Linked DNA regions of Homo sapiens: all the other regions are linked to region 2. Evidence: fine-mapped expression QTL. A gene starts in region 2. Each other region holds a variant in brackets. All regions are shown on one strand. Distances are between the middles of the regions.

The links.
Region 1: its variant is fine-mapped to the expression of LDOC1 in whole blood (TOPMed, PIP 0.97).
Region 3: its variant is fine-mapped to the expression of LDOC1 in whole blood (TOPMed, PIP 0.93).
Region 4: its variant is fine-mapped to the expression of LDOC1 in lung (GTEx, PIP 0.96).

The regions. Positions count from the first base shown.
Region 1 is chrX:140,938,022-140,946,154 of GRCh38, forward strand. No RefSeq gene overlaps it. Among named protein-coding and RNA genes, the nearest start is that of MIR320D2, 16 kb to the left of the region's middle. The variant A/C (reference allele first, on the strand shown) is at 4,888.
Region 2 is chrX:141,173,332-141,181,464 of GRCh38, forward strand. It overlaps LDOC1 (LDOC1 regulator of NFKB signaling), which reads right to left and starts at 3,798. Exons shown (of 1, transcript NM_012317.4): 1 at 1-3,798. The coding sequence starts at 3,690. The coding sequence ends at 3,250. RefSeq lists an enhancer at 2,863-3,362.
Region 3 is chrX:140,996,249-141,004,381 of GRCh38, forward strand. SPANXB1 (SPANX family member B1) reads left to right here and starts at 6,346. Exons shown (of 2, transcript NM_032461.4): 1 at 6,346-6,535; 2 at 7,183-7,458. The coding sequence starts at 6,446. The coding sequence ends at 7,404. The variant A/G (reference allele first, on the strand shown) is at 3,336.
Region 4 is chrX:140,593,817-140,601,949 of GRCh38, forward strand. No RefSeq gene overlaps it. Among named protein-coding and RNA genes, the nearest start is that of SOX3, 93 kb to the left of the region's middle. The variant C/T (reference allele first, on the strand shown) is at 5,023.

The DNA of each region.
Region 1 (8,133 bases), 240 kb before region 2:
AGACAAACCAACATAGAGAAGACCTTACTATATTTTGTTTATAAACACGATTTAATATTTTAATCTTTCCAGATTTTTTTCAATTGTCAGGTAATCAGAGCCTAAGGCAGGGGTCAGTAAAAGTTTTCTGTAAAAGGCCAGATAGCAAATATTTTAGGCTTTGTGGGACAGATAGTCTCTGCTGTAACCACTCAACTCTGTTGCTGTAGCATAAAAGCAGCCATAGACACTGTGTAAATGAATGGGCATGGCTGTGTTACAATAAACTTTATTGACAAAACACCTGGAGGACCATATTTGGCCTGTGGGCAGTGCAATTTTGATAATAAGGTATAAAAATTAGAGTGATAAAGAAGGTCAGTCACCCAATCTGGTTGCAGATGGGAACAGCTGTCAAAACCATTGTTTCCTATATGTTTTCAACAATATTGGAGTTCTTAAGGCCTTTATTTTGTCTCCCTGCTGTTCTGCACTCTGCTAGCATGCCACAGGATCCTTTGAGAAAGGGGAAAAAAATTGGGGGATGGGTGGGTCATTGATTAGGGTGCCTAGGATGCTTAAAGGACATAGAATGATTTGGCAAAAGTTGCCTTATGTGCATGGGTATAAATCATCCAAGAGTTTTCGTTCTTATTTTCTGACAAACAGCAACAAATTACCTAACCAAGACAAAATAGATACATGTTCTTTTCATCATTTTGGGGCATGGAGGGCAGAATCCAGCAAACACTAGGCTCAGTCCTCCTAAAGAAAGCAAGCTTTTGAACTATGAAGCTTAATTGTGGTTACTCCTCCTTCTTTACTTAGGAAACATGCTCCCCTCTCTCAATATCTCTCATTGTTAAGTAAGTGTCGTTCCAAGGGCCAGATTTTAATCATAAATGTCAAGTATACTTACAAATGACACGTGCACATATAAATATCAAATGAACCATGTAGTTCCTCATATCCTCTCCTACTGAAGTGCAGAAGACACCATGCAGGAGACTCACGAATCGAGGATTTCAATTCTTAACGGAGTTTGTTCTTGTGCCGGAGGCACAGCTATCTAGTTAGCTGTTCTATTCACTTGACAGCTTCGCATTGAAATTGTAACATTTTTCAGAATTGAAGCCAATGAACCACGTTCTTGTTTATAGGAAGTTACACACAGAGTGCAAGCCCTCCTGCTGAATTTTTTGAAAGAAAATGGGATCAACAGAAAAACATAATTTTAGAGGAAATTGGCTGTGTGGTCAATATTTTGAAATGCCCTTTGTATTACTTACTTAGTCACGTGACTGGAAACCATTTGCCTTCATGTCAGTAAATCTTCCCTGCTTGTGCAATGGGAAGCCATGGCCCCTATTTATATTTTCACAATTTACCTTTTCCTGGAAATGGATCCCTTTTCTCCAAACTCAATTTTTGGAGTTTTCAATAAACATGCAGAAGTTCTATAATATGTGCTGAGTTTCCTGCACATGTGTGGATTCCTTTCTTTATCCATTTAGTAAATACTTATTGAGTGTCTTATCATGTTTTAGGTGCTGGATATAAACAGCAATGAACTCAGAGAGCTTACATTCCAGTTCAGGAGACAGATCTTAAATAATTAATCATCCTAGTAAATAAATAATTGTAAACTGCAGCAAGTGCTATGAAGGAAAAGCACATTGTGCTCTTAGAGCTCAAGATAGGCAGAACTGACCTAGTCTGAGATCATGGAAGACGTCTCTAAGGAAGTGACCATTTGGGCTAAGACTGGAAAAATGAGTAGAGGTCCACTAGACAGAGTGGGAGTCAGAGTATGCCAGGTAGAGAGAACGCTAGATTCAAAGGCCTTGAAGTGGGAAAGAACACAGAACACTACAAATAGACTAATGTGTCCTAATCTAGGAAGGGAGCAGGACAGGGACACAACAGTCATTTATTCATCAAATGTTCTGGGAGACTACTGTGTATTGGGAACTAATCTAGGTACTGGGGACACAAAATGACAAAAGAAGAAAAAAGAAAAAAATCCCTGCCTTCATAAGAGTTCACATTTTAGTTGGTGAGAGAGACTATAAATATATAACAAGGAATTAATTAGATTTTCTATAGTGATAAATGCTAATATGGTTTGGTTCTGTGTCCAGCCCCCACCAAATCTCATCTAGAATTGTAATCGCCACATGTCGAGGGAGGGCTCTGGTGGAAAGGGATTGGATCTTGGGGGCAGTTTCCCATCTGCTGTTCTCATGATAGTGAGTGAGTTCTCATGAGATCTGATGGTTTAAAAGTGTTTGGCAGTTTCCCCTCACTCGTTCTGTCTCCTGCCGCCACGTAAGTCATACCTTGCTTCCCCCTTCACCTTCTGCCATAATTATAAGTTTCCTGAGGCCTCCCCAGCCATGTGGAACTGTGAGTCAACTAAATCTCTTTTCTTTATAAATTACCCAGTCTCAGGTAGCTCTTGATAGCAGTGTGAACATGGACTAATACAATTGCTCTGAAGAAAATGAAGCTGGATGTTCAGTGAAGGTCTATCTCTGGAGATGCCATTTGATTAAATATTGATTGAGGTGAAGGAGCCATTCAGATGAAGATCTGAGGGAGGAAAATTCTAGGTGGTAGAATTAGCCTGTAAGAACATACCTGGTGTGTTTTTTAGACTATATTTTATTTAGTGTTCAAAACCAATTCAAGAGGCAGCTTGAGCTAAGTTCATGGCTAATACATATCAGGGTAGGATTTAAACCCAAGTCTATCTATTCCTTCCCTTTTCCCATCATAGAGTAATGCCTCTTTAGAGGGTATTAAGCCATGTCCATGTGCACAGGTCATTTAATCAAATCATCATTTAATCATTACAGTTATTTATTTAATCATTTCATTTATGTATTTAATCATTTCAGTCAAAAGTGTCACTCCTGAGAGTGAACAAAACCTTTAGTATGTATCCTAGGTGAAACCCCAAGCTATTGCTGATAAAGGTGTTCTTCCCTTTTTCTGTTGGAAAACACTCCTGCGAATCTCGGTATTAGGAGAGTTCACACTTACTGTATAGTATGTGATATGTTTGGGAATCACTGTACAATGTAGAGAAAGTCCCAGGCTAATAGGAGACTTGGGTTTTATGCTTTTACTTCCATTCAATTAGTTGTACAAACCTAAGCAAGTTACATCCTCTCTGAGTTCCAATTTTTCATCTGTAAAATGGGAATGTTAAAAATAGCTTTTTTTTTTTTACACCTCTCAGACTTCTGAAAATCCAATTAAAATGTTGCCTCTTCCTTCAAAATATATCCAGAATCCAACAATTTGCCCCCCATCTTCACTGCTACCATGACCACTTCTTTCCTGGATTATTGCAATAGCAGCCTGACTGGTGTCCCTCTGTCCTTGCCACTCCAGCCCTGAACGCCATTCTGAATGGAACAACCAGAGTGATCCTGCTAAACGCAAGTCAGATATTAGTGGAACTTATTACTCTCCTTTTTCCCCCAGTGAATTCATTCATTCACTTGGAATTAAAGTCCAAATCTTCATGTTTACATGTCCCCCCATGATGTGCCTGCCCACATTACCACTCTGACCTCCTCATCTGGTCCTCTCAGATGCTCTTGCTCTAGCCTTGCAGGTTTTCTTGGTATTCTTCCTCAACCACACTAGGCACAATTTCACCTCCAAGATTGTTGCTCGCTGTTGCCTCTGTCAGGAATAGTCTTTATGCAGCGAGCTGCATAGCCCACACTCATACTTCTTTCAAGACTCTGCTCAAATGCTACCCTGTCAATGAAGTTTACAGTGACTATTCTATTTAAAATGGCAACTACTCTTTTCTGCATTTCAGACTCCCTTATCCTGCTGTACTTTTTCTGTTTTCCTTTCCATAGCACTACTCATTGTTTAAACATACTTATTTATAGAATGATCATATAACATTTTGCAAAAACTGGGATATTTTTGAAAATGAAAGCGGGTGCCATTAAATTATCCCAGGACAATAGATATAAACTTCGACTTAGTAATTTATAATGATTTTTACAAATGTTATGTTTCCCTTTGCTGGTTTTCACAAGAAAAAGGATCATTGAATGTTTTGTTGTTTACTTATTTATCTCATGTGCCAATAAAAATGCCTGACACATAGTAGATTATCAATAAATATTCTCGAGTGAATGAATAAATAAAAATAAAAAATAAATAAAACAAACAAAAAAAGATGTTTATGGCCAGGTGTGGTGGCTCACACCTGTAATCCCATCACTTTGGGAGGCCGAGGTGGGTGGATCACGAGTTCAGGAGTTTGAGACGAGCCTGGCCAACATGGTGAAACCCCTTCTGTACTAAAAATACAAAAAATTAGCTGGGCATGGTGGTGCGCACCTGTAATCCCAGCTACTGGAGAGGCTGAGGCAGGAGAATGGCCTGAACCCAGGAGGCAGAGGTTGCAGTGAGCCGAGATCATGCCAGTGCACTCCAGCCTGGGTGACAGAGCAAGACTCCGTCAAAAAAAAAAAAAAAAAAGATATTCATTATCTATAAAGTACTATATAGCTCTACATCTTAATTAATTTACTAATTTTTCTAAGGATATCTATATATGTTTATAGATACATATGGTGTGGAATATATATCTGAATATATGTGTGTATACACACACACACACACACACACACACACACACACACAGAGATATATATTTAATATCAGCGAATCCTCCCCACTTTACCCCATTTAATCCCTAGGATAGAGTAAAAGATAACTTTGCCATATAGTTTATGTATACTTTAAAATGCTAAAGGCTGATTTGAAAGATAAACATGATGTAGGGACAATTATTACAAGAAAGTTGAAAGGTGCTATTTGTTTAAAAACATTGCTTTTTTCCATGAGGGTACATGTCCCTGATGAGGGCTT[A/C]CAGATGCTGACAGTCACCTCAAGGAATTGTTGATACAGCTGCACTGAAAATTAGCATGATGCATGTACGAGGCTGTGCAGTGGAAAGCAAGGTAATATTCTTTCCTACAGAAGAAAAGGGGCTGGGCACAGTGGCTTAGGCTGGGCGTGGTGGCTCATGCCTGTAATCCCAGCACTTTGGGAGGCCCAGGCGGGCGGATCACCTGAGGTCGGGAGTTCAAGACCAGCCTAACCAACATGGAGAAACCCCGTCTCTACTAAAAATACAAAATTAGCCGGATGTGGTGGCACATGCCTGTAATCCCAGGAGGCTGAGGCAAGAGAATCGCTTGAACCCAGGAGGTGGAGGTTGTGGTGAGCCGAGATCATGCCATTGCACTCCAGCCTGGGCAACAGGAGTGAAACTTCGTTTCAAAAAGAAAAAAGAAAAGGAAAGGTACACTGTTAGTTGAGGAGTAGACAGGAAGCATGGAGGAATTGAGAGAGTTCCTGCAAAGGATGAGCCGCATGGAGTGGAAGTGGTATCTGGTAAGAAGACAATCAATTGGTAAGAGTTAAATTAATGGTTGAAGTAAATTAACCCTTGTCAGGCTATACAAAATTCTTGACAATTGGAAATAGCCATTTCTGTACTTGTACACACTATGCATCCACTCATCACTCCATCTACTCTATTTATTGACCTATTCTTGAATGAATTTTTGGCAGAAACCAACATACAATGTGCTATTATCAAAGTCAATGAGTGAACTGAATCCAAATGCAAAATGGTTTAAAGTCTACTTTGCTTACCCTGTAGTTTTGGAAATGCTTAGATAACAAGAGTGTGCAGTTTACTTATAAAGCCAAAGCAAAATCAATAGATAAGCTTTCATGCTTCCTTTCTCAGTTGATGATATCGATGGGAATGAATAAGCCAGAGTCTTGGCTTTTAACTAAATTTAAAAACAATAAAGCCTTATTGGGTGGGACTTTGTGGGCCTTTTATCTTCCTCCCCGCTTTGGTAAATCAGGTTTGGCTGAGTTGGTTTTCCAGGCATCCCACCCCAGCAACATCTGAAATATCTTTTCCATTTATAATGTTTTTCTTATAATCCAAGGATGTATCATAGAACAAAGGCAACAAAGTTTATTGGGTTCAGCTGGATCATGAAAAAAGACATTAGATTTTCTATTTAGGCATTTAGCAAATCATAGGAGAAATCAATATGCAAAGAAGTAAAACCTTTACAATTCCACTAATGGAAAAGAGAGAAAGACTGTTTTCTACCTTCTTTTGATTTCTTTTATGAGATTTCAGCCTTCTGATAGCCTTAGGAAACTGGCCTCTAGTTCAGATTCACGTTCAGCTTTTGTGGTTTGTATTGCCCAGAGTTGCGAAGTCAACTGTTTTGTTTAAATATTTTAAAAGTACCAAACTAGAAATACAAAGCCTGAGCAGAACTAGGCACATAGAAGGAACTCAATATATGTTTTAATTTAATGTGAGATGGTTGATATATTCTGTAAGCATATTCATCTGTCAATCTGTCTGATGCTAGGCAGCCTCCTAATATCTGAATAGCTAAAGAAGAGATACAAAGGTGTGAATACCACGGTCACAGACTCAAATATGCTAAAACATAACTTACTTTATTTTTATGTTAGTGAAAGCATTTTTTTTCCAAGTCTACCTTATTAGCAGTAGAAAACAACAATGACCACCACCATAGCAACAGGAATAAAATCTTTAATTTAGCTGCTTCCAGGTAAACTCAGTCCAAATCTGTGATGTATTAATTAATACAAATTAATAGTCTATCCACATTCAGATTTAAAACATCTCACATTTTTTCTCCCTTCTTCATCTTTTTGCACTTTCTTTTAGGCTTTTGAGCACGGTGATAATGTTGTTGGGAACTCGGCTTATGCTGCTGTTATATGAGGTTTTTGAGGAAAGGGCCTCGAAATGCTCTCTGCTTCTTATCTGTGTTGATCCTATTGGGCAATCCTACTCCAGTTGACCTTCTCTTGTATATCCATTATGCAAGCTTTTGCCTGAAAGTAACAAAAGTCCAGTAGTTCCTCAAAAAAAGGATATTTACTATTTAGTAGTAAGAAAATCCAGACACAGATGGCCCCAGGGTTGGTCTGGAAGCTCAATGACCCAGACTCTTATTATTTTTCTTCTCTGCCATTCTTTGCAGGTTGCTCTGTCAATTTTGTGCTGCCCACCTAAGGATCACAAAATAGTTGCTGCACATCCCAACATCACATAATCTTTCCTAGGCAGAAAGAAGTGGAGAAGAACCGCTATCAGTAGCTCTCCTCTTGTATATGCCTCAAGAAAGCAGCGGGTACCCAAAAACTTCCACTTAGGTCTTCTTGGCCAGATCTGAGTCACAGGTTATCACTTGCTGTGAAGAAGGCAAGGAAAGTAATGTTTTGAGCTTTAGGTTCTCTATAATGGGAGATGAGCCAGGGAGATAGCGTTGAGAATGGTATTTTGAGTGGCCGGCCTTCAATTTCTGCCATTATTAGTCTGGTTTTTGGTATAGGAAATGCACAGTAGTTCCTGAGAGTGTGATTGAGATGGTCTTTGAGAGAATGACTCGGTTGCATCAGTGTAAATTTTTTGATCCCTGAGGGGGACCTTTTGTGCGCAGGAAATGCTATTTGCAGTTACTTGGTTTTAAATTAATTTATCTAAAAACCACTTAAAAAGTAGTTATTTTTCTCACTTTTAAATGTAATTTAAAACTCTTAGTCTATTCCATAAATCCTGTGTATTTTATCAATCCCTTGCAAGGCAGCCTTTGATTAATGTTGGATCAACTCAAGCTGAACAGACTGAACTCTGCTTAATTAAAAGAACTTCTAAGTGTAAACCCAGATTCCTCAATTCTTTTTAGCATTTCAGAGTACATGTTAAAGTCTAATATATCAACAAAGAAACACTGCACTGAAATTGAACTTTAGATAGAATGGACCTAACAGACCATTATAGAACATCCTACTCAGCAACTGCAGAATATACATTCTTCTTATCAGCTCACGGAACACTCTCCAAGACAGACCATACGTTAGGCCACAAAACAAGTCTTAATGAATTTTTAAAAATTTGAAATTATACCAAGTATCTTCTCAGACCACTGCAGAATAAACCAACCAGAAATCAATTCTAAGAGGAACTCTCAAAACCACAGAAATACATGGAAATTAGACAACATACTCCTGAATGATCTTTAGGTCAGCAACGACATTAAG
Region 2 (8,133 bases):
TTACGCCCAAAATGAGAATTCAGGGTCTAAGTTCATATTTATTCAGCATTCCTACCTATTTTTAATAGTTTTGATCAAAGTGGCACTTTTATCCTTAGACATACTTCTACTTCTTCCTTCTTTTTTGCCATGCTTTATGCCATTATCATGAATTCCTCCCTGGGTGGTGGAGCCCTTGCCAGTATCTGCGCTTTTATTGCAGAATCTGCCCCCAAAGTAACCAGAATCCCTTTTCTGCATCTCACAGCATAACCTGTTTGTCCATGATGTAAGAAGGACATCACTTAACACACACACACACAGAGCACACACATACTGGGTCACAGCAAGCTCATGTGCACATGCACACATACTCAGGAAATGTACACTTCAGATCACAGAAGCTCCCTGGCCTAGTTCTCCCAGATGCCATTCAGATGCTGCCTTGGCATGGCATCCTTACTGAACCTCCCTTCCTCCACAGAACACCTACTCATATGTCCTCAACTTCCACCCCAGAAAGGTCATTCCCAGATCTAATCACAGCCCAGATTCTCTTCCTGGCCCTTTCCTGTAACTAATCATCAAAGTTCTGACCCAGGGCACAGTAAAAGCAGCAGACTGGACTCGCTATGAAGGCAGAGATCACATTTTATTCAAAGATGTTTCTGTAACTCCACTCAGCATAACTGGGCCATAATCAGTTTGGAATAAATGACTTTTGGTCTCACTGGATCCTTTACCTTTTAGATCTTGCTCACTTTTCCACATTTATCCCCAATTCAAGGCCTTTCTAGTTAGGAAGAAAGTGTAATTATCTGGCCTCACACATATTATGTCTCAAATATAATCTCTCTCTTCCAAGGGGTTTTGTATATTTTCCAAGGAGACTGGGAGAAGTGATCAATGAATTCTAAATAACCAGCTGTCTCCTTGATTCAGATTTGGAGGCGGCAGCTCCCTGAAGAGCCCCAGATCTCATTTCCACCCAAGCCTCAGCCTCTTTTATTAAGTCATACGCAACCCTGTCCCCACCCTCCAGAAACAGCTATCCTAGGGGTGAGATATAACTCCTACCCTGAACTTTGCCTGTCCACCACGTAAAACAGCTTTGTTTCTTGCTTCATATAAGACTCCAAAAAGTAAATGGGGTCTTATCATGCTCTCATTTCCATTCTCCCTGAACCTGCTCTGCTCCTCTTCACGCTGACATTTTCCTACTAAAGCCAGGCTCAGAGTCAGAGACTTGCTTTCTGAGACTTCTGTTCCCTGGCCCAGGAGTAACAGCCCATGGTTTGCTGAGTGCTCACCATGTAGCAGGGAAAGTTCTAAATGCTTCATGGGTATGATCTCATTTAATCCGCACCTATGAGGTGATTAATATGAAGACCCATATCTCATTTAATCAACACTGAGGTTTACCAGTACAAATACAATATCTTGCCTCAAAAGGCCTTAAACAGTACGGAAATGTGTTATCTAAATTAATTAAAGGTTATAAAGTCAAGTTGGCTCCAGACATGGTACAATGAGGACATCTGGACAGATATAAAAGAGAACTCTGAACCCCTCATATCCTCCTAAACCTTTCTAAGAGGCAGTCCTCTCAAATCCCCAACCAAGCTGCTCTGCATTAAACATTTCAATGACTTAACCTGGAGCAATGGCCTCACACAGGTATGCAGCTTCTTCTCAGCAGCCACCCCCTTCACTGCTCTGAACCCTCCAGGCCCAGAGATCTCAGCATAGCCCCTAGATAGCAGTACAAGGTCTGATTTAAGAGATAACCAAGCATCTTGCTAATTTCCATAGGGAGGAATCTGGGACACATCTATGAGTGGGAATTCTAAGGATGTCTGTCCAAGGAGAACGAAATGTTTGTTAAGATCAGGCTATATCTTTATGGGTGCACTTGCCCAGGATCCGGGACTTAATGTTAGCTGGAGCACCTGAAAGTGACATGTTGGCTATTTGGAGTTTGAAAGTGACAATCTACTATGTTGGCTCTCTGGAGTCTGAACTCAACAGCTGCACATAGGCAATAAGGATTAAGGGGCAGAACTTCCCTGGCACAGTGTTAAGGAATCCAAAAGCTCAGAGAATTAGGAGCATTACATATATATGTCCAGGTTTACGCCTATTGTTATGGTCTAATTATTAATACTGCTCTCTTTGCCGTCTGCTCAGCCAACCCTTAACCACGCCACCCTGGAGGACCCAGAGAACACACCCTTTGCCAGGGCTTTAAGAAATGCGTTGGTGAAGGGAGCATCAGAACCCTGACAAAGCCCTGAGGTAGCTGTCCCCAGCAGCCTGGAGATGACAGCGGGGAATACTAGGATTGGTTGTATTCCCTGATTTCCACGGGAATAATGGTAGTCAGAGTGACAGTGGTAGAGGCCAGTGATAGCACTTAACCATTAAAAGACAATCATTTCTTTTTTTAGTGCTTGATATTTATTGAAAATAATGCCAATGCTTTTTCCAGGTAGTATTGAGGAGCTGGGCTGAGTGCTTGTTTGTTTTGTTTTTAAGTACTATTTGTCCAAATGCACACATCTGTGGGACTGCTGCAATTTTGAAAGAAAAATGACAGCTGTGTAAAACCAGTGCATAGGAAAAAAGAAGTGTCAACAATTTGGCTGCCAGGCACACCGCGCCCCTGCAGCAATCTGGTGGGGCAGGGGAGGACACTCGGAGTAGGTAGAAAACTAACCAGGCTGAACGGCCCCTTCAGGGGTTGGTGAGCTGTCCAAATCAATGTCTGAAAAGGCATAGCCAACTCTGGCATTTTCCAGGTTGGTCCTGATCTCGAAAGGTGGTAGTCTGTAGGTGGGATGTGGTGAGTGGATGTGAAGTGGCAGCATAGTTCTCTGGGAAGATGTAAGCCTGGCAGCAGGGCAGGTGGCAGCAGCAGGGCTACGGGTGGTCTGCGCAGTTTGTAACAGGGGCCTGGCCAATAGCTGGGGTTCAGGACACAGTTCAGATTAGCAGGGGAGGGATCCCGGGGATGGCCAGGGTAGATGACACTTCCAAGCACTTCCGAGTGAGTGAGGCTCCAGCCCCGACCCCAGCAGCAGGTAACTGGAGCGCTATTCCTGGAACAAAGACAAGCACTACGGAGAAATGAAGAGAGAGAGCAGACGGGCGCGGGTAGGTAAGGGGACCGGAGGGCAAGGGGGAGAGCAGTGGCTCCTGGCGGGGTGAGGGCTGCGGGGAGGGGGTGGCGGCGTGCAGGGCCCTCCCCCCCGAGGCCCGAGGGTCGAGGGCCTAATAATCATCCTCCTCTTCTTCGTCGTCGTCGTCTTCGTCGTCATCCCAGCCAAAGCACTGTTTCATCTCATCGAGGAAGGCCCGGTAATCACCTAGGATGGGGCTATCCATCTCGATGTAGGGCACCACCCACTCCTCGGCTTCCCCGGTGAGGAGGCTGATTAGGAATGCCACCTTCATGGCGTCGTTGCAGAATCGGTTCTCGTTCACGAGCATGTAAGACGCCGTCTGCACGATAAACTCGGGGAGCCGGGAGCTCTCGCCATTAAACGTTTCGGGGAAGGGCACCGGGCAGCTCGGCGGACGTACCTGGCGCAGCAGGCTGGCCCTCTCGCACACCAGCAGCCGCAGCTGTTCCATGAGCTGGCTGTTCTCGATGCTCAGGGCGCGGTGCCGCATCAGGAGCGCGTGCAGCAGCAGCACCAACTCATCCACCATTGCGAACGGCCTGGAAGGACAGGACTCGGCTCGGTTCGGCTCGGCCAAGGTGCGCACGGAGCCCTCGCAGGAAGTGCGTGTCCACGGAGGCGCTTGGTGGCCAGGGGCGGGGGGCGGGGGGCGGTGTGCGCCGGGGTCCGGGAGGCTACGCAAGCTCCGCCCACGAGGCCATTCGGACGGACGGTGCGCCGGCGCGACGGGGGAGGGGCGTGGCTAGGCTGGGAGTGGGGGGGCCGCGGCGGCGTGGGGGCGTGGCCGGGATGGGAAGGGTGTAGACAAAGAGGGCGTGGCCAGGAAAAGGATGCGCTGGGTCGCTGAACCACCGGCTTGTGGTAGGTCTCTCGGCGGGCAGTTAAAGGCTGGGATAGGCTCCCCTAGCTCCTAGTTGTGGGGCCTGCGTTAGCAGAGGACTTGGCGAGCGCTGAGTCCGGTCTCAGAGAAGGTAAATTTGTTCAAACTGAAAGGATTAGCCACCCTTCTACCTAGGTAGCTTGCACAACTCAGTGTTCCTTCGTGGGTCTGTGGCCACTAGATTCTCTTGGCTTGATGTTTTATTAACACATTTTCTTTCTTATTTAAATCTCACTCAGAGAAGTATTGACACTGCTGGCTGCCCTGTGGGAGTCACACTTCCTTTTAGAATCATGAAGACCCTCAGGGGGTCCTGCCTTTCATGAAAAAGGTAGTATTTAAACAGTGACTTCTTTAGTAGGGAAATAATATGGTATACACACACACACACACACACACACACACACACACACAAAACCTAAGTAACAAGATATAAAAAAGTTCTGCAAAATCAGCATCCAATAGTCAATTGCAGGCATCCCACATATCTTTGATTCTCTATTTCTTGTCTTGCTATTAGTGCCGTTGGCCACTGGGTATTATTCTGTACTTAAAAATGAACTGTTAAGATGTTTGTGTTTTTAAATAATTTTGTTTTTCTACTTTGAATGGATCCCTGATTCTAGAGCCAACATGAATTGTTGGCTCTGCTTTCAAATATATTGCCAATTCAATCACGTCTTGTCATTTCTGCCACTGCCACCCTGATTCCTAGCCTTTCTTTCTCACCCAGACTGCTGCAACTAATCACTTAGCTTTCACTCTTTTCTTCCTATAGTATATTCTCCATAGAGTAGCCACGGGAATCCTTTAAAACAAAAATTAGGGCCGGGCGCGGTGGCTCACGCCTGTAATCCCAGCACTTTGGGAGGCCGAGGCGGGCGGATCACGAGGTCAGGAGATCGAGACCATCCTGGCTAACAGGGTGAAACCCGTCTCTACTAAAAATACAAAAAATTAGCTGGGCGTGGTGGCGCATGCCCGTAATCCCAGCTACTCGGGAGGCTGAGGCAGGGGAATTGCTTGAACCCTGGAGGCAGAGGTTGCAGTGAGCCGAGATAGCGCCACTGCACTCCAGCCTGGGCTACAGAGCGAGACTCCGTTTCAAAAGAAAAAAAAAAAGATCCCTTCACTCTCCTGCTCAAAATCCTCCAACAGTTTCACCTGAGAATAAAGAGCAAAGTTGCAGCCAAGGCCTACAAGGCCCCTCCTTCTATCCTGTGCCTCTTCCCAGTTTCTGCTGTGCTCTAATCACTGTCCTCCTTGCTGATTCTCACACCCATCAAGCAGTTCTGGCTTCATAGCCTTTGCATCTTCTATTCCTTCTGCCTTGCAAGGCTGTCATCCCAGTTGGCTGCCTGACTCCTCCTACTGCTTTCAGAGAGAACTTTTCTGACCACCGGACCTATCAGAGCACCCTGTTCTCTGCCCCCAATCTGTAACCCTTTACTCTGCTTCATTTATCTACATAACATTTATTGTGCTACCGGCCACCATGTCGTATGTATATACAGTACTTTGCTCATCATCTGCTTCCATTTTAGAATATATAAGTCAAACACTGCTTTTGCTATCTGGTCTATCCCTAATGCCTAGAAAAGTTCTGGCCCAGAGTAGAGGCTTCATTAATGTTTGGCGAGTAAAATCATCCCAGAGTGAAGATGCTGAGATGAAAATCAGAAGTTGTCGCTGCACAAAGAGTCAAAAAATACTCTTCAAATTGTTAAATGTAAGGTTGGGCGTGGTGGCTCATGCCTGTAATCCCAGCACTTTGGGAGGCTGAGGGGGGCAGACCACCTGAGGTCAGGAGTTAAGACCAGGCTGACCAACATGGAGAAACCCTGTCTTTCCAAAAAATACAAAATTAGCCAGGTGTGGTGGTGGGCGCCTGTAATCCCAGCTACTTGGGAGGCTGAGGCAGGAGAATCACTTGAACCTGGGAGGCAGAGGTTGCCTGAGCCGAGATCACGCCATTGTGCTCCAGCCTGGGCAATAAGAGCAAAACACCATCTCAAAAAGAAAAAAAAAAAAGAAAAAAAATTGTTCAGTGTATTTTATCTCTGACCATGGATCAGTCTCGATTGTGAAACAATGACTGATGTAATAAAACTGGCTGAATAGATTTTTAAAGAAATTCGATTCGGTCCTTTAGGATAGAATTGAATGATCATCCATGGAAGTAGGAGGCTGGGAAAGAGCAGAGAAACAGGGCCAAGCCCCAAGCAGGGACACGGGGAAGATCACAGTGGTGAAAGGATAAGCAGTGAAAAAAAGAGATAGGAGGAATGTGAGCTTTTGGCCTCTCCTGTGCTATGAGCTCCGCCACCTGAGAAGTTGGCAGGCAGGGATCCACTCTCACTCTTAATTTTATCTTCAGCACCTGGCAGTGTTTACTAGCTGCTCCGTAAACATTCAGTGTAAGGATTGAGGGGAGGGATGTGAAATGTGGAAAGTAGGTCTCTGGCCATCATGCCCATTTACAGTTCAGAGTACAGGATGGGCCTGACTGGGACAGAGGTAGTGTCCAGCTTCACCTTTCATATCCAGGCCCTAATACAGGAAGAGTACTCAGGGTTCGACTCCTGGGAGCACACTTTCTTTCTTTCTTTTTCTTTTTTTTAGACAGAGTTTTGCTCGTGTTGCCCAGGCTGGAGTGCAATGGCACAATCTCGACTCACTGCAACCTCCGCCTCCCGGGTTCAAGCGATTCTCCTGCTTCAGCCTCCCGAGTAGCTGGGATTACAGGCATGCGCCACCACGCCCAGCTAATTTTATATTTTTAGTAGAGACAGGGTTTTTCCATGTTGGTCAGGCTGGTCTCAAACTCCTGACCTCAGGTGATCCACCCGCCTCGGCCTTCCAAAATGCTGGGATTACAGGCGTGAGCCACCGCGCCCGGCCTAGAGCACACTTTCTGTAGCAGACACTGGGCCAGGTGATTGGCAGGGCTGTCACAATGACTCATACACAAGGACCAGACATGGGAATGGGCATTTTAGAGCCAGAGACCCAGGAGGTAAATATCTAAACCTAATAAAGCAATAGGTTGATGGTGCTATACCTTCATGCCAACCTCTCTAACTCTAAAGCCCGCCCATGCCCTTGCTCTGAATAATTAATATGTGCTGGACCCTTGTGACTTCAGTGGGCCCAGGCAGGTCTAGTGGGGAACCAGAGATGATTAGGCAGATGCTGCCCTAATTTTCTCCCTACAACCCCACAGCAGAGGGATTCAGGGAGGAAACCAGACGAGGCAACCACTATTGTTCCCTCTGAGTGTGCTCTGAGACCCTGGAAGACAGGAAATGTCCTGCCCAGAACTGAGCAGTGACTTTGGGAGGTGCTTCCCTGGTTGGAGAAAGGGAATGGAGACAAGCAGCTTAGCACTGACTCACAACAGAAGCAGTCAGGAAGAGGTATGTAGTATCAGTTGATAGAAGATGTAGAATCTTAATGCTCATTTTAACCAGCTTCCAGGTGCCTGTGAGGCTCTCCCACCAGTGCCAATGCATATCAGCACTTCCTTCTCCATTCACCCTGCTCACAGCTGCATGTCGCCTTCCTCATTTTCTTTCCCCTTCTCGAGTGGCCCTTAAGTGTTCCTTTCCACTTAACGTGAATATGCTGGGGGCAGACACAAGTACTCCCTGTGACAAGTACTCATAGGGAGTACTTGTCTCGGGCCAGTAAAATTTATCAGGACAGCTCTGGGTTGGAACGCCCTAAGGGTGGCTTAGACTCCACCGTTTGGCAAGAGCACAAGTCCAAGGCACTCACTACCACCATGTTTCAGGCTCCAAACCGTGCCCTGGTACACATCAAGCATCCAGACTGTAAAATTCTCTTGAACATGAAAATTTCCCATGATTCTTGAGCCACCAGATGAGTGTGCACACATCGACTGGGTGAACTAACTCAGCACTCAAATATACAGCCAGGAACAGAAACAGCTTCGGAAAGAATATTTGTGAGAGGACTGCATGAATGCTGCCAAGAGCCAGATCTCTTCCCACATAGACTTCCCCCATCCCCCTTCTTAGCCAGGTGCACCTGGGACTGCTTTTTACAGAAACCTCACTTGGAGGGCAATAG
Region 3 (8,133 bases), 180 kb before region 2:
CTTGGCAAAATTAATTTTCAAAATTGACTGAGACCTGTCTCAGATATTTGGGGTTCACATTTGGGTAACCACAGAGGGATTCTGAGTGTAGGTGCCCCTGACCTTTCACAAATCTTCTACTGGTACTTGGTACCAGCTTGAGCTATCTTCATGGTTAAAACCAATAGGACAATTTGCTGAGGCCTGAAAGCCACCCCTCCAAAGAATCCCTGATCTCCAAAAATTTGGTTGCAATCTAAACTTTATTTTGCTGCACAACTCCTTTTCTGAAGATTTACCTGCTTTCAACAAGGAAGGCAAGTTCTCCTGCTTCCATCACAATGGAAGGCAGGTAATTCCCTTATGAGTTTGACCTTGCTCCCAGCACGGAAGATGAATCTGAGTTTTTTCCTGCTTCTAGGGTAATAGACAGCAGTCTTCAGCCTGAGACCCATCACTAGGTAAGTAGCTCAATAGGGGTTTTGTCTTGTCTAAAGTTAAGATTAACAACAAGCTGGTCTTAATTTCTCCTTACCATTAGAGTGCTCAGTAATCATATAAATTTTGTGATATTTTGTGTTTTTGCTTAACTTTTTTTTTTTTTTTTTTTTTTTGCCGTTGTTTGTTTCTGTTTTTGTTGTTTTGGTCTTTCTTTCTTCATTGGGAAACTATCCAACTTGATCAAATCTAAAGGAAAGTTCCAAATTATGAGGAACAAGGCCTCTGAAGTGGCTAAATTTCCACAAAAGGTGGGGAGGGCTTGGGAGGAAAAATGCTCAGCAAAAGAAAAAACAATAAAGATTTTTGATTTTGAGTACTTAAGGGGCTTTATGTACATAGCAAGGCCACTTTTTTGCTATCCAGGCCAAATTGAAAGAGCAACGCTGTTGCCCCATGCTGCAGTTTCATAGCTAAGGTTCTGCCTTCTTTTTTTTCCACAACAGCCTGGGTTTGCTTCCTAAATCAAGCCATTTCTGGTTTGATACTTGTTTCTTTTGAAACATCAGCAATTTTTCCTAGCTAAAATATGGTAATGAGATTCAGAAAGATTTTTTTAAAGGAGCTCAAGGGTTAAAAGTCAGCTTAATTAAAAGCTCACATCTGAGATGTGTGTGTGTGTGCATGTGTGCATTTGTATTAAAAGGCCTTTATTTTTTCCTCTGTTAGAAACAGATAATCGGTGTCGTGAAGAAAAGACAAAGGATCTCTCAGCAAGGCAATCTTTACTTTCTGCAGAAAGGGTGCCCCTCGCAGATCGAACAATCGTGACAGCACACTTGAACAAAGGAAAAGCAGACATATTTATCATTTACGTATTTGGGTCAGCCTTACTGCTCTGTCCTGCATCCATTGGCTGGAGCTGGACCCCACAGTCTTCAACTGATACCAAATCTGCTAATAACCTAAAACTTTCCTAAACAGGTAAGTGCAAGGGAGAACAAAGAAGAAAAAGAAGTTGCTTACTAAAGGTTTAAGGAAGCAATTAACATTTCAAAAAAGGAAGGGGCATAAGCTATGAGCTAAGACTTGCCTGGGCCTGTCCAGACATGCCTGAGTAAGCCAAAGCAACTAACTGGGCTCAAGTGTAAGAACTAGTAGTTGAGAGGAGGCTTTAGAGTAAGGAGCTATTATTTATAGTGTCTATTATTTTATTTTTAAACCAAGATGAATTTTGAAGAAAAACTTTACTACTTTCTACATCTTCTCTCCTAGGACCTTGTCTTTTTTTGAGCAAAAGTTTTTTTTTCTTCTCAGACGATGACATTCTGTTTTCTTCATCTACTTCTGCTGTCTCTCCTTTATTTTGCTACCCTCTGTTGCATGAGGGACGTAAAATAGTTTATAATTGCCTGCATTCCTTAAAGAAAATGGAGAAGATGCCACACTCCCTTTTGGGGAGAAACCTCTATTTTTCCCAAGAGTGTAAACACACAAGTTCATCTCAGATCTTAAGCTGCTTGCTTTTGTATTGTGTTACTTGATTTTTTGACTAAAACTGTTATTAGTTTATTCTTGGATTTTTAAGGAAGAAAGTAGCTTGAACACTTAGAAATGTCTTTGTTAAAAAAAAAAAAAAGGACACTGTAAAAGCATCACTTGGTGTAGCCTCATAGTAATTCTCCCTTTTTGGAGAACTAGGATTCAGTGTGGGCTCTGCCCAGAGCTCAGAGATCCAGTTAAAAGACAGGTAGTCCCTATCTAAATACAACTGGTCTCCTTATACAATCCTATAATATATTTCTACAATTTTGTGTTTGATTTGGCATCCATCTTCAATCTCCTTCTAACATCACCAGACTCTTTCTCTCTGTGCTTTGAGAAGCAAATTTCACTATCTGATTTTTTTTACCTAAGGGTTCCTTTAATATGCACATTTAGGGCTATCTAGCTGACAATTGCCTAGGGCAATAAAATAGGTTATGAAGAAATTGTAAATCTAAAATACAAGGAAAAAATAAAGGCCTTAGGAATTTATAAGATCTACTTCTATCTACATGTCTAATACATCTATGTATTTATGTGTCATGGATATGACATTTCACTACTAAAAATGTAGAAAAGAGCTCTAATTAATTGGCTTAACAAAGGCACTTAAATCTAATGCTTTTCAGAAAAATAGACTTTAAGCCAAATGCTTTTTCAAGTTCATGTGACTTAAGCAAATCTTCAATAAACAAGCTGGTTTTAAAAATTTTAGTGAAATTGAATTAGAAATGGCTTTGGAATTCTCAACATACATTATTTATCTCTGCTAGATGTCAACATTTGGCATAAGGGTTCTAAAGCTATGAATGCAGCTCAAATAAGAATTATCTTTGTTTATGTAAAATTTAGTAAGTAAGGAATTTAATATTGTTTGGTTAATGAAAATAGCTAAATCCTGAGTTATTGCCAAAAAAACAAAAACAAACAAACAAATAAACAAAAAAAGACCCTTTATCTAACCTTAATGTTCTTACTCAGGACAACCTGAAATTCACAGGTTATAAAAATGGTTAACAAGGACATAACTTTAAATGGTAACTATTACAGTTTTCATAAGTAATCTGGGTAAACTATTAGAAAATTAATTAATTACACAAATGTAACAGAATAAGTTCTTGTAGAATATCTTGTCATATAATTTAAAATCCAAAGTTATATTAAGCTAAATAGTAGATATTTATTACACGTCTGGGTCATTTCCAATTTTTTTAATTATAGGAAAACATTTTTCTGTAAAAAAGAAATGTGATCTTAAAGGAAAATACTTTTTGTCTAATTCGAAGCTTATCTAAAAGTTATTTATGAAATTAGGTAATCAGTGAATAAAAACAATGTGAAGGAAGTTATGAACAGGCATTTTTGGCACAAAA[A/G]GTTAAAAGGAAAATAATTTTATCTGAGCAAGAATCTTGTATGGTAAATTTTTGTTCTAAAATAAAATAACTGGTTATTTAAGAAAAAGGAAGCCTAGGCATGGTGGCTCATGCTTGTTAATTCCAGCATTTTGGGAGGCCGAGGTGGATGGATCACCTGAGGTCAGGAGGTCGAGACCAGCCTGGCCAACGTGGCAAATCCCTGTCTCTACTAAAAATACAAAAATTAGCCAGGTGTGGTGGCACGTGCCTGTAGTCCCAGCTACTCCGGAGGCTGAGGCAGGAGAATTGCTTGTACATGGGAGGCAGAGGTTGCAGGGAGCCGAGATGGCGCCACTGCACGACTCTAGCCTGGGCGACGGAGGAAGACTGTATCTCAAAGGAATAAAGAAAGAGGAAGGGATAAAACAGAAAGTCCAAGCTGTCATAAATGATTTGTATAAAGTTGTCTATAATTAAAGGGAAATTATTTATAATAGTCTTTCCAGATTTAGCTTATGATATTAAAAAAAACACTAAAAAAATTCATCAGAACAATAAAATTTTCTTAAGGAGTTGATTTACTCTTAATAAATTAAAAGATTTTAATTCTTTAAACCCAAAGTTTAACTTTTATCACATCTCACCATTTTCGGTTTACTCTCCTCTTTTAAAAGGTGAAAATAATAACTCTCTCTTTCAACTCATTTTCAGCTCATATAAGTTTCTTCTTTTTTTCTCTTGTGTTCTGTTTGTTGTGGCCTCATGCTAAAAATGTTTTTTTTTCTATTTCTTTTTTCTTTTCTTGAGGTGGGGTCTCACTCTGTCAGCCAGGCTGAGAGTGCAGTGGCACAATCTTGGCTCACTGCAACCTCCCCCTTCCAGGTTCAAGCAATTCTCCTGCCACCACGCCCGGCTAATTTTTGTATTTGTAGTAGAGACAGGGTTTCACCGTGTTGGCCAGGCTGGTCTCGAACTTCTGACCTCAAGTGATCCACCTGCTTCAGCCTCCCAAAGTGCTAGGATTACAGGCATGAGCCACTATGACAGGCCAAAAATTTTTTCTTCAAGGTCTAAAAAAGTGTTTTCTTCCATCTGTGTAACTTTCTGTATGTGCTTTTAAAGTCCTTGTGCCATTGAGTTATAGGGCTTTGACTTCTGGGTCTAAAAAGGACACCAAGTTCTGCTATATCTTAAACACTGACAGCAATTACAGCCTCATTTTCAGGCCCAGTAGAAGATGCTAATCAAAGTAAACTGCGTTCATGAGATGCAGGGCCAGAAATTAAAACTATTCAACTCCTCAAGGCCCAAGGACTATCGTGGAAGAGGTGGGCATGTGAGATTGTAAGGGCTGATATTAAGAGAAAAGTAGCTCAGTTTCTCTAGGAATTAACCATTAATATCAAAGGCACACTAAAGCAAAACCAGTATCTAGGTTGCTGTGTCAGTTTAACAAGGCTTTCTTGGAGCATTAACTCACTCCTTCATGCAAAATGATGAAGGTTACAAGGTTTATAGAAATTATATTTTATACTCAAGATGATTAAACTTTTATTATACAATTTCAAAAAAACAAACTTAATTTGCCGCATCCTGTTTTTAATTAGGGCTTATTGTTTGGGATATTAAGCCTCCTCTCTCAAAGAATAAAGATTTTCACCTTTTTTTTTTTTTGAAACATTTGAGTTACTGCTTTGGTTAAATGAATGACTTATTTTACAATGACCCATGACCCTATTTCGTGATATCAAGCATTTTAAACTTTTTATCTTTGACGAACTTTCCAAAGTCAAATTCTAACTTCATTCCTCATTAATTTTTTGATATGAGTCCTCTGAAGTCCAAAAGAGACATATTGGTCTTATTTGGTATAAAAATCATACAAGAAGCATCATCAAATATAAAATGGTGTTTGACTTTCTTTGGGCTGTATTTATAGAAATGTCATTGATATGTGCTCCAAAATTATGGGAAACTCTTATACTTCTGAAATAACTTGTGTATGTTATTAATTATAACTTTTATGTTAAATTCTTGTATGCTACAGAAGTAACCAAAATTTACTTGTCAATGGTGGTTTTAATAATGGCCGTCCTGGCTGGGTGTGGTGGCTCACGCCTGTAATCCCAGCACTTTGGAGGCCAAGGCAGGTGGATCACGAGGTCAGGAGTTCAAGACCAGCTTGGCCAAGATGGTGAGACCCCGTCTCTCCTAAAAATACAAAAATTAGCCGGGCGTGGTGGCACAGGCCTGTAATCCCAGCTACTCAGGAGGCTGAGCCAGAGAATCACTTAAACCCAGGAGGCAGAGGTTGCAGTGAGCTGAGATCATGCCACTGCACTCCAGCCTGGGCAACAACAGTGAAACTCCATTTGAAAAAAAGAAAAAAATATACACCCCTGATTTGAAACAAGACTAGGATACACGGTAAAGAATGTTTATTCACTAAAGTTTTGACAGACTGAAGGCCATTATTTCAGATTGGAGATAGGAAACTTAAAAGAACTACATGGACATTGGGTAAAAGAACATGGGTTGAAATTTGCCTGGCAGTAGCCCAAAAGTAAATGGTCTTCGAGGTGCATGTGAAGGAACTGTAGGAGGGAAATGGGATAATTCACATCTCCGCCAATAAATAAATGTAGCCACACTAGCGTGGGGGATTTGAGGTGAGACATCGAAAATACTAAGTCATGGTGAGGGCTGGAAGACAAAAGAATGAATCACTTAATAGGAATGGCTGTGGGGAAGGGCTTGAAGGAATCATCCTCTGACTTCCATGTGAACCGTGAACATTAAACATGGAGAAATGAGGAGCGGCGGCAGATCGGTTTGGGATGCATCTTCAGGGGATGCTGAAACAACAACAGCATTTGGTTTGCTCTACACCCCTGTCACCCCTCGCCCGCAAGCCCAGGGAGTGGTCAGCAGTGGGGCTTTGTGACGTCGAAGCCACCCTAGGGCTGCCATTGGCTGGGACACTGCCTGTATGATCAAACAAAGCTCAAGGGTGTGGCTTTGCCTTGTCACCAGGAGGGTATGCATAGGGAGGGCAAGAGCTCTGGGCCACTGCGAAGATTCAAAAGCTCCAAAAACCTACTGTAGACATCGAAGAACCAATATATACAATGGGCCAACAATCCAGTGTCCGCAGGCTGAAGAGGAGCGTCCCCTGTGAATCCAACGAGGCCAACGAGGCCAATGAGGCCAACAAGACGGTAAGATTGTTAGGTTCTGAAGTGAAGGCGAGGGTGAAAGAAAGACACACAGAGCGGGGGCGGCTCAAACAACAACACAGGAATATTGCAGACCATTGTGGAAGTGGGGGGCCCGCTTAATGCCAGAGCCCACCGCCGCTTACAACCTGGGGTGCTTGTAGGTAGGGGTGGGAGGGGCCTGGGCAGTATGGCTTGCTGCCCGGCAGGATATTGATAAGATGTTCTTATGATCAGGTGGTTTGGCCCTTTTTCTGGTGGAATATCATTGTGGTGTTCCTTAGAACGCTGCCAAGCAAGATATGATAGGGATGTTTCTTCAGTTGGGCCTTTGTCCGCCTTGCGGACAGGTGGTTAGGCAGGATGTTTCTCACGGCCTGAACCCCCATGGGATGTTTCACTTTGACCAAGGTCTGCAAAATAGCAAAGAACTGACAAAATGGTGCAGTTTGGACTCACAGGTGACCCTACCCACGCTCCTCTTCTTCTTCCCCATAGATCCCTACTCTGTGCTTCAACCTTCTTCTTCTCTGGATCAAACCCCTTCCTCAACCTGCATTCCTTCTTCTCATGAAGCCCCCTTGCTATCCAGTCTCTATCCTGTTCACCCAAAATAATGTCCTCCTGGCCTCTCCCTGTTTTCTTAACAGATGCCGGAGACCCCAACTGGGGACTCAGACCCGCAACCTGCTCCTAAAAAAATGAAAACATCTGAGTCCTCGACCATACTAGTGGTTCGCTACAGGAGGAACGTGAAAAGAACATCTCCAGAGGAACTGCTGAATGACCACGCCCGAGAGAACAGAATCAACCCCGACCAAATGGAGGAGGAGGAATTCATAGAAATAACGACTGAAAGACCTAAAAAGTAGCAAGAAGCTACATCCCTCAAACTTCGGCAATGAAAATAAAGTTTGAGAAGCTGATGGCTGTGTATATCTCTGCCTGTTTTCTGATGGTGGGGGGTGAAGGGAAGGGAAGAGGTAGGCATTTGAGAAGGGAGGGATATGAGGTCCTGTAGGGTTGGTGGACAGACCCACAGGTTGACAGTAAGCCAGACATTGTAAATAAGGCCTGGGGGAGGACTGATTCCTAAAGAAAATTTTCTTCTTAAAATTTTATCTCACAGGAAGTGGAGATGTGTATATGTTCACGCAACTGTACCCGGCAGCACATAGTTCTGCTGAATGGACATATCAAAGGTATTCCCATCCCCTTTCCATTTGATATTTTCCTAGGTTAGAAATATATGCTTTATAAAGCGTAAATGTTCTGTAAAACACAAAGCACAATACAAAAGAAGATAGTAGATGTAGGAGTAAGTAAACGGCAGGAAAGCATTGCATGTAATGAAATGATTGAAAAGCCAAATTTTAAAACAAAATGTACACTGCATCTTAAATATTTATGTTACTGTTTTAATAACCTCAGCAGTGTTTAATCAAGATAAGCATGCTTTAGAAATGTGTTGATATCCGCAAGTGTGAATAGTCAAAATCGCCACGACTTGGGAAAAGGAAAGTAAAACACTCTTAAGTATGAGGAGCTTTTTTCCATGGAATGTGAACTGCAAGGTGGTGAGAAGGGTTAGGTGTGATGTG
Region 4 (8,133 bases), 580 kb before region 2:
GGGCAAAATATGGCCTGCTGGCTGTTTTTGTAAATAACCTTTACTGAAACACAGCCAATTGTCTATTGCTGCTTTTGTGCTCCATGCGCAGAGTTGAGTAATTGCAACAGAGGTCATATGGCCTGAAAAAGTCTAAAATGTTTGCCGTCTGGCCCTTTACAGGAAAAGTTTGCAGACCCCTGATTTAGTAACCTGCCTTTAGAGGGTTATTACTTCCAAGTCTTCATTGGCGGTAGTAGTGGTGGTGGTGATGGTAATGATGATGATGATGATGATGATGATGATGATAGCTAACACATACTAACACTTAAGTACCCTAAGCACTTTGCATGTATACATTCATTTAACCCTCACAACAACCCTATATTATAGCACTGTTACTATCCCAATTTTGCATATAAGGAAAAGGAAGCAGAGAGAGGGTGAGTGATATGTTCATTCTCACTTGGCCAGTGAGTGGCAGAGCCAGGCTGTCTGGCTCAAGAACTTATGTATGCTCATCTTATTTTTGTTTTTTTTTTTTAACTTGTAATTATGAAATTTTCAAGCATAGATAAAAAGAAGACTATAATGAATCACTAAACACTCGTCATTCAGCTTCAGTAATTAATAGCATACTGCTATTTTATCTACTCACCATGTCTTCCAAATATTTGTATGCATGTAGAGCAAATTTCAAACATCATGTCATTCTATTTTCAAATACTTCAATGCATATTTCCTATATATATAACAAAAATGTCGTTATAATGTCTAACATTTCACAGTAATTTCATAATATCATCTAATGTCCAGTTCATATTAAATTTCTTCTGGTGGCCTTCAGTTTTTCTTTTGACCATTGGTTTGTTCAAATCAGAATTCAAGCAAGATCAACTCACTACATTTGGAAATTATGTCACTATGTTTCTCTGAATATATAATGGTCCCTACCCCTGCCATTTATTACTTAAGAAAATAGTTCATTTGAGCTGTGATATGTCCCACATTCCCGATTTGATCAATTACTTCTTTTTGGTTTAATTTGTTCCTCTTTTTTCCCGTATTTTTTTATACTCCTGGCTAAGTCTAGATGATTGATTAAATTAAGAGGTATTTATATGTGTGTGTTTGTGCCTGTGCATGCACATTTTTAGACTCCTTTGTAGATAGTGCTGCATATTTCCTATTGTATCACATCATGAACCGCATAATGTCTGGTTATCATCACTAAAAAGTGATGTAAACTTTTCTCAGTAGGTTCAAGTGATGTCAGTCTGATCCTGCCATTACAAAGTTTTCCCCATCAACTTTTATCTTGATAGTTTTATCATCAATTAGTGATTGTTTCCTAGATCTATTATTTCATTGAGAGTTGCAAAATGGTGGTTTTCAGAGTTTTTTCATTCCTTTTCTCTTTATTAGTTGCAATGGTTCTATAAAGAACTTTCCCTCATCAACTTTGGTTACCCTGAAGTATTGTTTGTACAGAAGCAGAATAAATGCTTCTTATCTTTTATTTGTGAATGTTCATTGTGATGACTTAGTGTCTCAGCAGCTTCTAGGTGCTCCGGTTGCTCATTGCTACTGAGTGGTCACTGCTTCTAGGCTTGTTGGTGGGAAGATCTAGAAAATATGTACTTTATAGAAAGAGAAAAATAGGCCAGGCGTGGTGGCTCACGCCTGTAATCCCAGCACTTTGGGAGGCCGAGGTGGGCGGATCACGAGGTCAGGAGATCAGGACCATCCTGGCTAACATGGTGAAACCCCGTCTCTACTAAAAATACAAAAAATTAGCCAGGTGCGGTGGCGGGCACCTGTGGTCCCAGCTACTCGGGAGGCTGAGGCAGGAGAATGGCTTGAACCCGGGAGGCGGAATTTGCAGCGAGCCAAGATCACGCCACTGCACTCCAGACTGGGCGACAGAGCGAGACTCTGTCTCAAAAAAAAAAAAAAAAAAAAAAAAAAAAAAGAGAAAAATAGATTATGATTTCATTTTGATATTTCCCATTTGCATAAGATTTCAGGATTTTTACTGAATTTCTTTGATTTTACGTTTATTTTTGTTTTATGCTGACAATCTTGGTTCCTTTTGATATGAGCATAGTTATGTGCTTATCCTATAATTTGCATAAGGTAATTAAAAAATAACATTACCAATATTACTGTTAACAGTAAGACAGTTTATGTTTTCTACTCTCTTAACCTCTATGATAAATGGCCTCTTTGTAGAATGGAAATTATAATCCTGAATCTGCCTGAAGGTTCTTATGTGGGAGCAGATGATCTGTTGAGGTATCTCCATCTGTGAGATTTCTTATAAATCAGTATTTTTTAGACAGTTTCTAAAATGTGTGAGATGGCTAGAGTGCTTGGGTTTGAGCCATAAGGTCCAAGGTCAAAATTCTTCACTGGGCTTTGATTCAGAGGTTATGATGATTTTTTGGTGTAAGAATATAGGCCCCTGCAGATACTATAAAGTTAGTAACCATAGTAAAAAACCTAAATTTTGGGATCATATAGGATAATTTATATATTGAACATTGCTTTCTGGTATATAAAACACCTTCTAATAAGTCATCTCATTTGATCTTGATATCTCTCCTAGGTGATAGGCACTATTATTATCTCTATGTTACAAGAGGATCAGAGTGGTTAAGTACTTTTCCACAGTCGCACAGCTAGTAAGTAGCAGAGTAGGGATCCAAACTGAGGTCTTTGGACTTATAACCTGGCATTCCTTCCAGCATATCAAGATTGTTAACGTATCCTAGAATGTTGTTTGCAGCCCAGTAGTGGTGACTCTATTAACTTCTCTTGCGGGGGGGATGAGGAGAGAGATGCTTTGGAAAATTTTCCTCGGCCAATGGTGCTTTTCTTTGGTAACTCTTAGGTGATCAGACCCAGAGCCGAAGGTGTGGACTTGAGTATGTTTTATGTTTACTGTTTTTATTGCTCTTCCTTTCCCACTGCAGCTTGGTTATTGGAGTTGTTTGAAGGAGCAGGAGGAGATCTGATGAAACTTCTTTCAAGTCAGAACTTAACTCTGCAGTAGCCATGCTTGTCCTGGTGTCTACTAATTAAGCACTACCAGGGTCACCTTTCACTGTTGCTTCATGTGCAGGTGCCTGCATTAGTCATTATAAAAGAACATCCTACTCTTTTTTTCTCTGTGGTAGTAGATGGAGATTTCAACTCATTTCATATTGGCAACTACTCTGCCAGAAAATAGGAACAGTTTTTCACTGTTACCTGCTTCTACCAAAAGAGTTTTTTCCCTTAAAGCTTCTTGTGAATTGATTTCAACCATTGCTTCACTGAAAATTATTAATCCTCAGGGAAATATAGGGGATTAACCACAAAATACAACCAAGTGCATGAAGTAGAGTCTGTATTCTACTAGTTTCTTCCAAGGAGCTGGGGAATATCTCAATCGGACCTGAAGGGAGGAATCCTAGAATGTTTGAGGATCTGCCATACCCATTTTGTGCCTATAATTTCAGCAAGTTGGGAGAGAGAGAGGAATGTCTGCACCATGTGCCCTGCTGACCTAGATAAGAAATCACTTTAAGGGCAAGAAGTATTTCCTTCACTGATGCTAACACCCCTCACTCTCAATTCTCACAAGGGATCTGGAATCAAAACACCTGGTTTAAATACTAACTTTATCAGTGTACATCCTTGGGAAAGTTACTTAAACTTTTTTCACTTCAGATTTCTTATTTGCCACATAGAGACAAAATAGTGCTTAGCTCATATAGTTGTAAGAATCAAAGCCATAATGCCATACAATGCTTAGCATAGACTTTAGCACATAATGTAGTTGTCACTCCAATGCTGGATGTTATTGTTTATCATGAATGTTATTGTTATTGATCATTGTGGTTATTATTTTCTTTATCAAAATAATGTTATCCAGGCCTCAAACCATCTAGTGATATAAAGTACAAATAGCAGTTGGACATTTTACTCCCCTATCTTGGTCACTTTCATTAACAAGTGTGAGTGCTTCCTTAATAACAAGCATTAGCTAAAAATGTCCCCCCTCTCCCACCACCAAATCTTCAAACAGCCTCTAGATTATTCCCTCTGCCCCTACTCTTCAGGGCTTCAACATCATGCTCATCATCCTCTTCCTTAACTTTCTTTATAGCAAAACACCTTAAGAGAGCTATTTAAATTAATCCTCCACAATTCTTCTTCTCCCCTTTTCCCTTAAACCCACTCCAGTGAGGCATTCATTCCTACCACTCCAATGAAAGTACTGTTGTCAGGAGGGGAACACCACACACTGGGGCCTGTCGGGGCGTTGGGGGCAAGGGGAGGGATAGCATTAGGAGAAATACCTAATGTAGATGATGAGTTGATGGGTGCAAGAAACCACCATGGCACATGTATACCTATGTAACAAACCTGCACGTTCTGCACATGTATCCCAGAAAGAAGAAGAAGAAGAGGAAGAGGAAGAGGAAGAGGAAGAAGAAGAAGAAAAGAAGAAGAAGGAGAAGGAGAAGAAGAAGAAGAAGAAGAAGGCAGTACTGTGGTCAAGGTCATCAGCAACTTGTACATTGCTAAATCTATTGGTCTCTTCTCTTTTTTTTTTTCCTTACAGGGCGACCTGGTAACATTTGATATGATTCTGGATTTTCTTCCTACCTCATTGACTCCTTTTCCTTAATCTCCTTTCCTGGCCCCATCTTCTTATAGCCACCTGTAAAAAAAGTGTTGGGATGCCCTACACCTGCTTCTCTATCTCTATCTATATACAGTTGACCATTGAACTACATGGGTTTGAAGTTCAATTGCATGTGGTTTTTCTCCCACCTCTGCCACCCCTGAGACAGCAAGAAGAACCCTTTGTTTTCCTCCCACTTAATGAATAGTAAACATATTTTCTCTTCCTTATGATTTTCTTAATGACATTTTCTCTGTCTTATATTATTGTAAGAATACAGCATCAAAATATAATACATACAACATACAAAAAGTAAACTAGTAGTAGTTATGTTTGATGGAGTCAAGTTTTATGCAGATTTTTGACTG[C/T]GTGGGGGACCAGGGCCCCTTAACCCTTGTGTTGTTCAAGAATCAACTTAATTCGTTTATATTGATTACATGTTGAAATGATTTGTTTTATATATTGGGTTAAAGAAAATATACTATTAATTTCATCCATTCTTTTTACTTTTTTTCAGTGCAATTACTGGAAAATTTCAGAATATATATGTGGCTTGTATTTGTAGCTTACGTTCTTTTTGACCGGACAGCACTGGCCTAGACGGAGCAACTGCTCTACATCCCTGGGTCCACCTCACTTCAGTGTCTGGTGAAATTCTCCTCATCCCTCAAGACCAACTGCTAATGTCTCTCTCCCCTTTCCTTGCTCTTTGCCACAAGCAGACAGAGTTAGCCATTCTTCCTAGTCTGCCCTGACTCTGTGCGTAAGTTGTGCTGACTTCCATAGCCCCCGACACCTAATGAGCAAAGAAAGAGGCCTGTGCCACTCCTGGGCTGTTGGTGGATTTTCTTTGTTGGTCTCCTTACAGGATTTGCTTCATCTCTCTGCTACAGCATTGCACACATTGGTTTCTAGTTATTTATTTGTAGGTCTTTCTCCCTACTCTATAATGAACTCCTAGATGTTCTGCATGGTTTCTAACTTAACTCTGATCCTCAGTGACCAGAACACCATGTTGCAGAAATTTGTGCTCATTAAGTATTACAGGGACATACAAATCGCTCTCAGTCTGCATTTCCTGCTGCCATTTGCCCCCAGCAATCCCACCTGATGACTTCCGATTTTCCCCATAGCTATTCGTTCCCTAGGTTGCAACCGGGCTCTCATTGTAACTAGTCTGATGACTCCTACTCTATTTGTGGTGTAGGCTGGCTAATCTGGACTACATCAGGTCTGGTAGCATCTCTGGTATGCAACCTGGGTGATTGGGTGTCACAGAGGGATGGGTGAGCTCCCTTGAAGGCCAGCTGGTTGTATGGCCAGTCTGTAGAGAACAGCAGTAGGCTGCTTCCTTCCTTGGCTGCAGGAGATTTTCCTGATTTGCCTTGTGGTGGGCAACCTTTCAACTTTATGGGTGATGCTGCCATGTCATTTGTAGTGAGTTAATGATGCACAGAAAGGAGAGTGGGTAGATTTGTGGCAGATATGGGTTTCCTAGCAACATCATTAGCTATGCTGGACCACCATTCAGTCAGCTTTGTCTCCTGTGGCCTGATACCATGGTGACACCACATTCTCTCTGGCCACTCCATAAACCTTGCACTTATGGCTCTCTGTCTTTAGAAGGACTGGGAAGAAAGATCACTTAGCAGTGTGCTGCTAAGATGCTGAAATCGATGGCAACGTTCCACTTTCTTTCTTTTTCCCCCGAGGCCTTTGACTGTGTACTTTGTATGATTTGTTTCCTGGGTACAGACAGCCTTGTAACCTTTTTGTCTTATAAATGCAGAATCTTTGCTGAAGCATCCCATGTCTGTCTGACCACCATGGCTGAGACTAAAGACTTGTTTACCAATAATGAAAATGGTATCATATTTATTTGGCTTAATTTCCACCCATTTTTTAAGGGACCACAGTCTTCATCAGATTTCTTTTACAATATTCCAGGAATTGTAATCTACCATTTTCTTCTGTCCTGTCCTGGTCCAGCTACTGTTGTGACTCCTCAATAGCTGAAATGATTCAGTGCTCCATTGGGCCACTGCAACAAGGCCATCATTGAGGCCACCAAAGCTGTAATGGCGTCTTTGCTTCTGCACTCCAGATGAGGACTGGCTTGTTTCTGTACACACACTGATGCCTCTCTTTTGTGTTCCAGACACTTTAGGGTTCCTTCTTCTCCACCTATCTCCTCCTCTTCTCCTGCCCCCACTTTTTCTTCTCCTGTTATGGTGGTCCCATTGCTGCAGGACTCAGGTCTGTGAAGGCTAGGCTTGGAGACAATCTGAGAGACAGATACAGTGATATTCTTAGAAAATTCTCTCCTCTCCTTTTCCAAACTGACCTACTGAACGTGTACCAAATTTAAACACCCCAGCCCTCCTTCTAATTGAAGAGTTCTTTTTAAAAGAGATTACTCAGCCCCTCAAGTAAATAGACCCTTGATGGCCCTGGCCCTGCTGGTCTTTTAGACAGGCTAAAGCTGTCATGCTCAAACTCTGCACCACTGACATGAAGGAAGGCCCATCAACTTCTCTATGTCTGTTTGGGCCTGTTTTAAAACATCATCAGTGTGGGCACAGAAGAATTCATTCTTCTCCCTGAGTCTCTCAGGAACTCTGCATGGCATCCATGTTTGGAATCCTTAGCTTACTGCCCCTATGATGCCTCCTTAGAGTATGTTGTTTCCTGCTTGTTTCTGGAGCAGAGTCTAGGTGGTAGGCACTATGAGGATGCTATGCAGAATAAGGCATGAATTCTCTTTTGAAGGAGTCTTCAGAACAGAATTTGAGATGATGTGATCAAACAAATAGGAAGAGTACTCTCTAACAGTACTTCTGCCAGGTGGTCATATGGCCTCTGCCTGGATCTTTACCAATTTTTTCAAACACAGAGCTTTCTGCTGCAGAATAATTTGAAGCATTAGACGTTTTTCCCTATTTAAAGCTGAAATCCTTGGGCAATGGGATCATAAGAAGCCCAAACTTCAGCATCATGCCATATACCCATGAAACCAACTTGAACGTATAACCCCTGAATCTAAAATAAGAGAAAAAGAAAAAGGAATTTAAATACATGGGAGAGAGAAAGTAGTAGAAAGTATGACATGTTTAAACATTATAAAGAACTAGTAAAATGCATGCTTATCAAATATCAACCAAGAAAAGTACAAAAGATATACTTATTTTAAAACATTAAAGCTTAACACCAAAATAAAGGAAATGATTTAAATTCACTGAAATATAAAATGCAAATGAACTATAGAGCAACAGTAGAGTTTTAGCCTATTTCTCAACATCTTCATGGAATTGATAAACCAATGTATATTGTGTTCAAAGTTCTGAGTTAAATCATAGGTGGGAATTGAACAATGAGAACACTTGGACACAGGGTGGGGAACATCACACACGGGGGCCTGTCGTGGGGTGGGGGGAGGGGGGAGGGATAGCGTTAGGAGAAATACCTAATGTAAATGATGA